2 separate regions of the Homo sapiens genome follow, and region 1 is linked to region 2. The links come from fine-mapping of genetic effects on gene expression. A gene starts in region 2. The other region holds a variant in brackets. All regions are shown on one strand. Distances are between the middles of the regions.

Region 1 (4,393 bases), 360 kb after region 2:
AATATAGAGCAGCACATATAACATACTTTTGTTCATGTAAAACAGTGCTGCACACAGAAATGCTTCTATGTGTTTGTCTCTTGCTGCTTTTAAGATAATCTCTTTATCTTTCCAGAATATTTGTGTAGATTTAGAAAACCTCAAGTGAGGGGAAAATGGAGGGCCAGGGTGGAAGGGAGCTGTACTAAACATGATACAATCATTGTCTTTTTCAAAAATTTCACTGATTACTCTTTCCATTAAACTATTTTTCAAAATGCCATGTTTTGATGTGAGGGGAAAATAATTTTTGTATTGTATCTAGATTTATTCTGTTAGGAGATCCAGAGGAAAACTTATATTGTATTTACTTTTTGTCAAGTATGTCAACAGCTATTTATTGCCTGCTTTAGAAACTTATTGTGAAATATTCATACATATCACACATGTAGAAAATGTGGGCCTGGTGTGGTGGATCATGTCTGTAATCCCAGTGCTTTGGTAGGCCAAGGTGGGAAGATTGATTTCAGCCCAACCAGCCTGGGTAACATAGTAAGACCCTTTCTCCATGAAAAAATTAAAAATTAGCTGGATATAGTGGCATGCATATATAATCCCAGCTACTTAGGAGGCTGAGGTGGGAGGATTGTTTGAACCCTGGAGGCTGAGGCTGCAGTGAACAGTGATCCCACCACTGCACTCCAGCCTGGGTGACAGAGCAACACCCTGTCTCAAAAAAAAAAAAAAAAAAAGGAAAAGAAAGAAAAGAAATGTGTACAGATAATTTAACGATGAATAATATGACAAACACATATATATGAAATGAAATGGAAGTTTACCAATGCCTTGGAAGACTTCTGGATGTCCCCTCACCCCCAATAGCTCTCTGAGTTGGAGTACACTTATCCATTTAATTCAGATAAGAAAATAGAGGCTTAGAGAGATGCCATCATTTACTCAAAATCACACAGCTTGCTGGTAGAAGAAATGGGACTGAACTCCAGGTTTCCTGATTCCAGGTCCACTCTACTTTCTATTATGGCTCTGGTGATTATCTTAACATCACCAGACAGAAAAAAAATTGATTCACTGCCTTTAGTCATTTTCATAAATGAATGTAATCAGCTGCACTAGGAACAAAATTTATTGTCTTAAAAAATGTGTAATTGCCCATTGAGAGGACCAGAAAAGACTTCACAATGGCTTCATTTGTTGCCTGGGGGATCACAGCAGAAGGGGTGGTTGGAAACAACAGAAGCAACAATAGGGAAAATTAGCCTTTCTGTTTGGTACTAATCACTGATCTGGGGCAGGTGCAGCTTCTGTAAAAACTATGAAGCAGTTTTCATTTCCTGACCTTTTGATTTCATTTGTATGCTAAATGTCAATTGAGATATTTACCAGTAAATTATGTTAATCTTTACTCAAGAATAGTCTTTTAACGAAATTGGGCTGTGTATATAAGATTGTATTGAGATGAAATATATGATATGAAAAGGTGTGGCCATAAAGTTAGAAACTTTTTTCTGGTCATAATGATTAAAAATTGGAATCAAAATAAGAAAACTCCCAATTGAAAGTCACAAAATCTAGATGGTCAAATTAAGGAGTCATATTTTGCATTAAGGGCCTCTTAAGTCTTGAGGGAGGTCTTGAGAAGGTTGAAGCTGGAAGAGTCCTTAGAGGTCATTGTCCTGGGGGTACTAGGCATGACCCATCCATGTTGTGGCCCTGCCCCCGCACCTTGTAGGGCATCTCCCAGTGCTCTCCCCCTCCCTGCCCATCACTGTCACTCTGCTCCAGTCGCACTGGCCTCGTCGCTGGTCTTGGCCTTGCCTAGCGTGCTGTGCCACACATCTTTACATGGT[G/A]AGCTTCACTGATGCCTCAAGTCAGGCTTTCCTGTCTCTCAACTGAAGGGAGCCCAGACAGCCACTCCCCATCACCTCATCTGGCCTTTTGTCTTTGTAGCACTTATCATTATTCAGTACAGTTGACCTTGAATGATACAGGTTTGCACTGTGTGGGTCCACTTGTACACGAACTTTTATCAGTAAATATAGTCAGTTATCCATATACACAGGTTCTGCATCCGCAACCAAACATGGATTGAAAATACAGTATTTGAGGGATGCGAAACTCTCAGAAATGGGTGGCTGACTTTTCATATACTTGGGTTCCACAAGACCAGCGTCAGGAACTTGAGTGTGTGCGGATTTTGGTATTCACAGGTGTCCTGGACCCAATCCCCCACAGATACTGAGGAATGACTGTATTATCTTGCTTACATATTTATTACCTACTCCTGCTCCCCAGAGAAAGGAAGCATTTTGAGAGCAGAAAAACTTCTTTGTTTTGTCTGCATCTCCTGTACTATGATTTGAATATGTCCTCCCAAATGCATGTGTTGGAAACATAATCCCCAACATAACAGTGTTGGGAGGTGGGGCCTAAAGGAGGACATTTAGGTCTGCAGAACTCCACCCTCATGAATGAATTAATGCTGATTATAAGGGGGCTTGAGTTCACTCTCTTGCCCTTTTGTCTTCTGCTGTGGAATGATGCAGGAAGAAGGCCCTCACTAGATTCTGGTACCTCAATCTTGGACTTCCCAGCCTCCAGAATTATGAGAAATAAATTTCTGCTCATTATAAATTACCCTATCTGTGGTTTTCCATTATAGCAGCACAAAAGAGACTAAGGTACCCTGTGTCTAGAATAGTGCCCGGTCCCAGGCCTGGAACTTCTCTGCTGAGAAGTGGTTCAAGTGGGAAAGCACATCAACCGTCTCTAAGGAAGAGTTTCTCTGAGAGAAGATGACAATAAATTGCTAATCAGTTCATGATATGAGAATCTGGTGGTGCTGGGGAGAGGGTGGGTGAAGCACAGGAAAAAGTCCAACCCAGCCACGCTAGCATGGAGGACAGACTTAGTGGGAACGATGGGCTGTCAACCTGAGTGCAAAATAATAAGCAGTAGCCCCGAGAGCTCAGGATGAATGCCCTGTTGGCTGTAAGCATCACTGAGGAGTGAGAATTATCTCCCAGAAGAAACAATGGGGCCCATCAGGTTCATCTCCCAGGTGGGAAGATCAATGCAGCAACGGACAGGGACATATTACATTGCATGGCGACTTGTTTTCAGCATTGAACGTTTGGTAGCTGCTATGGTTTGAGTGTCCCTTCCAAAACTCATGTTGAAACTTGATCCTGAATGTGGCAGTATTGAGAAAGGGGGCCTTTTAAGAGGTTATTGGATCATGAGGGCTCTGCCCTCAAGAATGGATTAATCCATTCATGGATTAATGGGTTATCATGGTAGTGGAACTGGTGGCTTCATGTGAAGAGGAAGAGAGTCCTGAGTGAGCACACTTCAATCCCTTGCTATGTGATGCTCTGTCTCACTTGGGACTCTTCAGAGAATCCTCACCAACAAGAAGGCTGTCACGAGATGCAGCCCATCAACCCTAGACTTCTCAGTCTCTATCACTGTAAAAGATAAATTCCTGGCCAGGCGCGGCGGCTCATGCCTATAGTCCCAACACTTTGGGAGGCCAGGGTGGGTGGATCACCTGAGGTCAGGAGTTCAAGACCAGCCTGGCCAATATGGGGAAACCTTGTCTCTACTAAAAATAGAAAAAAATTAGCTGGGTATTGTGCCATGCTTCTGTAATCCCAGCTACTTGGGAGGCTGAGGCAGGAGACTCGCTTGAACCCATGAGGCAGAGGTTGCAGTGAGCTGAGATCGAGCCACTGCACTCCAGCCTGGGTGACAGAGTGAGACTCCATCTTGAAAAAAAAATTCTTTTCTTATAAATTATCCAGTTTCAGGTATTCTGTTATAATAAACAGAAAGTGGACTAATACAATAGCGTTAGGGGAAAAGATAGCCCAAATGGGCCCTACTGGCAGCCTGACCAGCTTTTCCAGTTTTTTTCTCTGAAAAGGGAACTATTCTCATTGGATTAGCAGAACTCTTGGGGATCTTGGCCAAGGAAGAGGCCCCAGGAGAAAAAGAACAGACTTCTTGCTGACCTGGCATCAGATGGCTTGAGCTTGTTTTAATTCAAACTAAACAGAGATGGGACATAACTTGGCAGTATCTGTTAAAAAGAAAATGCTACAAATTAGGAATCCCACTTGGAAGAGTATACAAGGATATCTGGACAAAAATGCTCAATGCAACACTGTGTGGCAGAACATGCAAAGGTTTGTCAATAAGGGTCTTGTTGAACAAATTTTAAAGGATGACATAGATCTATATGTACTATTGGAAAGACAGCCTTGGCATGGTGTTAAGTGACGAAAGCAAAATGCAGCCCAAGCCACATAATGCAACACAACTTTTTGGTTGATAAATAATCCCTAGATGTTTTTGTATAAGTACACAAAAAAGCTGGGAGGTTCATGAAACCAAA
Region 2 (4,393 bases):
CAAAGCCAAACCAAAACAAAAAACCCCAGGGTCTCACTGTGTTGCTGAGGCTGGAGTGCAGTGGCATGATCTCTGCTTACTGCAGAGATCACCTACTGGGCTTAAGCAATCCTCCCACCTCACTTTCCCAAGTAGCTGGAACTACAGGAGTAGGCCACATGCTCGATTAAGTTTTGTATTTTTTGTAGAGATGGGTCTCACTATGTTGCCCAGGCTGGTCTTGAACTCCTGGGCTCAAGCTATCCTCCTTCCTTAGACTCCCAAAGTGCTGGAATGGGCCACTGCGCCTGGCTCAGTTCTTTAATCTTCAGATTAAAACTTCCAGCCATGCAGTAAACTTTTTCTTAGTGGAAAACATTATATGCTGTCTCATTCCTAGATTGTAAACTCTTTGAAGGAAGAGACTTCTTTCTTGAAACATTACCAGATCTTGTCTATATACTGAGACTCAAATTCTGCCTCTCTCTTGGGTCCTGAAATGGACACACTGGATACCACCCAAAAGTTTATGCATGGCAGACTTATGCTAAACAATCTAAATTAGCATTCAGGATCTTTTTACTACACCTCAATTCAACCACTTGTAATTATGTATTTATTTTTTTTTTTATTCCACTGAGCTAGGCACTGCTGGAGCTAAAAAGATGAGTAAGACCCAGTTATGCCTCCCAGGAGCACGTATTTGTTGGAGGAGATAAGACAAGCTCATGCATGTACATGCAAGTACAAACACAAAACACAGAGAGTTAAATACTAAACCAGAGGTATTAATACAAACCTCTTGGAGTTCAAAGAAGAAACAGTAACAGTTGGGCAGGTGGGAAAAAGGGACCATTGGGAAGAATTAGGAAAAATCTCATGGAGGATGTATCATTTGAGACAGACCTTAAAGATTTAAACAATGTAATAGAGGGTACTGGAAGAGTGTTACCATTGGAGGGAATAACATGCAAGGTATGAAAGTAGGAACAAGGAGGCCAGTTTCAGAGGCTCTGTTTGGCAGGAATATGTAGAGTATACAGAATGAGTTATAGATGGGGTATGGTCAGACCATGAATAATAAAAATAGAAATAATAGCTTGAATGCCAATGTAGGTTTTTAGTAATGCTGTTGTCCCCAGAGAGCCATTGTAGGAGTTTTGAGTGGGATGGTGTTGTGGAAGCTTGCTCCTCTCCCATCCTTTCTCTCCTGAGCAATATTAGCTTTGCCTCTGTCCAGCACAGCAACATACCAAAACTTCAGCCAACGAATCAAACCCCCAGGCTCCGGACCTTCCTACAAGGTACCTCTTCTTGGAAAGCTGTCCAAAATAACACAGAAACCAGGCACTAGATGCTAGTAAATGTGTACCCACTCTGTGTATAATACAGTGTGTTGAAAGGGTGTTCAAGAGTAGACGGTGTTCAAATGAAGAGTACAGATAAGAGGTCTTTGGTGGTTATAATATTAATAGCAATACGGGGCAGGGAGATGCGATTTCAGGGTGTCAAAGAATAAACTGACGAAGAGAAGATGAATGCAGACAGTAAATTCCAACTACTGAGCCTGGAGAATGAATTGTATGTGGCCAGCCTTTCGAGGCAGCCAGGACTTAAATTGGCACTAGTGTACAAAGTGTGAAACCCGAACAACTAGGGGGGTTATTTTGAGGCCACCCATTAGGCCTTAGAAGCACTATCCCTCCTAGTGCAATGTTGAAAGGACTGGACTCTGAGGCTGTTGAGATGGACCTGGAGAAGCTGTCTGTGTGTGTTTGATGATCTTAAGTTTTACTGTGACGTGGACTTTGAGGTCACTGGGGTGGGGGGAGGGAAGTACCCTTGGCATTGGCAGAGCTGGAAGGTCTGTGCAAGCTGGCTCCTGCTGGGGAATCAATAAAGGAGGCAGAGCAACGCTTTTTTTTTTTTTCGCCGTGGCCAGGGCAGGGTTCTGCCAGGGCTCTATCGCCAATGGAGCAGGGGTCCACCTGGGGCCTAGGACGCCTGCAGATAGCCCTCTCTTAGCCCCAACGGCCGCGGGCTTCAGCGCTCCCCGGCTCCCTCGCTCTGCAGGGTCTTCCCGGTACCGGCAGGCCGCGGCGGGAGCTGCTTTCGCTCTTAACCTTGCAGGTGCGTGTGCCGCGGGCGCCCGGGGCAGGCAGGACGCAGAGGAGGAGGCGCCCGCCATGCCCGGCCTGCGGCTCCCCGCCTCGGCTTCCCGTCCGCCGCCCCCGCGGAACGGCCTGCTGCAGCCCCTGTGAAGAGGAAGAGGCGGCGGCGGCGGCGGAGGAGGAGGAGGCGCCGCCCCCTTGGCAAGCTCCCCGACCCGGCGGCCTCGGCAGGACCCATGGCGGATTCCTCGCCCGCACTGTCCCTGCGGGAAGGCGGCCCCCGCGCGCCGCGGCCCTCGGCCCCCTCGCCGCCGCCGCGCTCGCGCTCCGGCTCCGAGTCCGAGGAGGCCGAGCTGTCGCTGAGCCTGGCCCGCACCAAGACCCGCTCGTACGGCAGCACCGCCAGCGTGCGGGCGCCGCTGGGCGCCGGCGTCATCGAGCGCCATGTGGAGCACCGGGTCCGCGCGGGCGACACGCTGCAGGGCATCGCGCTCAAGTACGGTGTCACGGTGAGCAGGGCGCGCCGCCGCGGCCCGGGCTGGCAGCTACCGCGCAGGAGGCGGTGCGGCTCGGGGTGCGGTGGGGGTGGGGGTGGGACTGCGGGTGGGGGTTTGGGGGATGGGGAGTCGCAGGGACGGCCGTGCGTCCCCGGGCGGCTCGGCTCCCAGGGCTCGCTCAGCGCGCGCTGCTGGCCACCGCAGTGGTCGCCAAAGCTGGTCCTGCAGCGGGAGGGGCGGACCGCCAGGGCTCCCTCCCTAGGTAGCTGCATCGAGTTCCCGGTGCCCCGCCCAGGCTCAGACTAGATCTGTCGCGTGAGGGAGGCCGAAGAGGACTAGGGCTTTGGCATCCCCGTGAACCACCTTCACCCAATTTGCAGGCCCCATCACACTACTCTATATTTACGCAAAGCCCAACTGAGGTGAATTTTGTTGTCTGTGAAAACAAGCTCCGTGATGAGTCAGGAATGGTGCAGTTGTTCCTACTGGGTGGTTCTGGTTCTATCGATTATGCTTCTTTATGTAGAAGTGAAATTACACCCTCTGGGCTCACTGGCAACCGCGAATGTGACACCTGTCGCTAAGCAGCAGCCAAGAACTGTGGTGAGCTGGAGGGCTGCGTTTATTACAAATTTATAAGTGTGTGTGTCTTGGGTGTATAGCATTACACCTCTGGGAAGAACATGGAAACCTGAGGGAACAAATTGTTTCATTAAAATTACTTATAATTAACTGTGAGCTATGTGATGGCCTTTTTACATTTGGGATCTGTATCAGTTTTCAGTGTTCTTTCCTGAAGCACCTTAGACAGCAATGGGAAGAAAGAGGATCTTATCTATATCTTTCCCTTAAAGTGAAACTCTTTCTGGCCCTTTACCGAATGAAGGAGCATCAGTATGAAGGAGAATGTATTTTGCATATTTAAGCCGGTATATGTTTACCTATCAGGTCCTTCTATCTTTGAAATATTTTGAAAGGGACCTTGCTGTGCAGTCATGTATTGACTCTATCATGCCATGGAGAGCCCCATTCTGCCCTCTTGGGAGTTCTATACATGTGAACATAGAGCTACAATTCTCTATGTGCCTTAATGGGGCCTGGTTTGAGTCAGAGGCAGAGGAAAGCGAAGTTGGGAAATACCAGTAGCTACCCTCTGCTGAATGCCTCCTGTGTGGCAGGCATTGCGTTTGTCTTGTTTCATCTTTATCTTATTTAACTTTCACAATAAGCCCAGGAGGTAGGTGTAATTAATCTTTTTACAGATGAGAAGATGGATGAGAGGTAAGGATATTTTCCAAGTATGATCATTCATTGAGACCAGCTTGAATTAACAGTGATAAAGCATTTGCTTTCCTCTAGATATTACTTTTGATATCCATCCTTATTTTTATCTTAGTCTTATCAGGAGCTCTCTCAGCATCCTGGCTACTGAAGGAGGACAGTCTTTTCTATCTGGTTTTCAGGCATCTTGCCTTACTAGGCTAGTGACAGCACCTAAAAATCTATGACATGCAGAAGAGTGTTATTTCCCATGCTGTCTTCCCGTGCAATCTCTCTGTGACCCACAGCCGTCTGTGGTTTCACTTGAGTTGATTATAGATAACTCTTATACATCTGTTTACTGCAGTTTTCCACCTTTGATCAAATGCTTTCTAATCCCTGTTATGTCTAATATAGATCCTATTACTCATAACCTCATTACCCCTTTTTAAAATTAAAGTGTAGATCAGATTTTTCGTTGCTTTTATAAAGACTTTTGATTTTAAGATATTAAACACAAGGATAATGAATCAGGAACTATAATTG

Evidence for each region. PIP is the estimated chance that this variant, and not a neighbour inherited with it, causes the effect. A credible set is the group of variants that fine-mapping cannot tell apart.
Region 1: its variant is the best candidate, but not a certain one, in a credible set for the expression of LYSMD2 in whole blood (TOPMed, PIP 0.54).

What each region holds. Positions count from the first base shown.
Region 1 is chr15:51,371,075-51,375,467 of GRCh38, reverse strand. All of the region lies in intron 1 of GLDN (gliomedin), which reads right to left. Among named protein-coding and RNA genes, the nearest start is that of GLDN, 32 kb to the right of the region's middle. The variant G/A (reference allele first, on the strand shown) is at 1,848.
Region 2 is chr15:51,735,556-51,739,948 of GRCh38, reverse strand. It overlaps LYSMD2 (LysM domain containing 2), which reads left to right and starts at 2,294. Exons shown (of 3, transcript NM_153374.3): 1 at 2,294-2,599. The coding sequence starts at 2,327. RefSeq lists silencers at 1,976-2,415, 2,426-2,565, 2,636-2,845.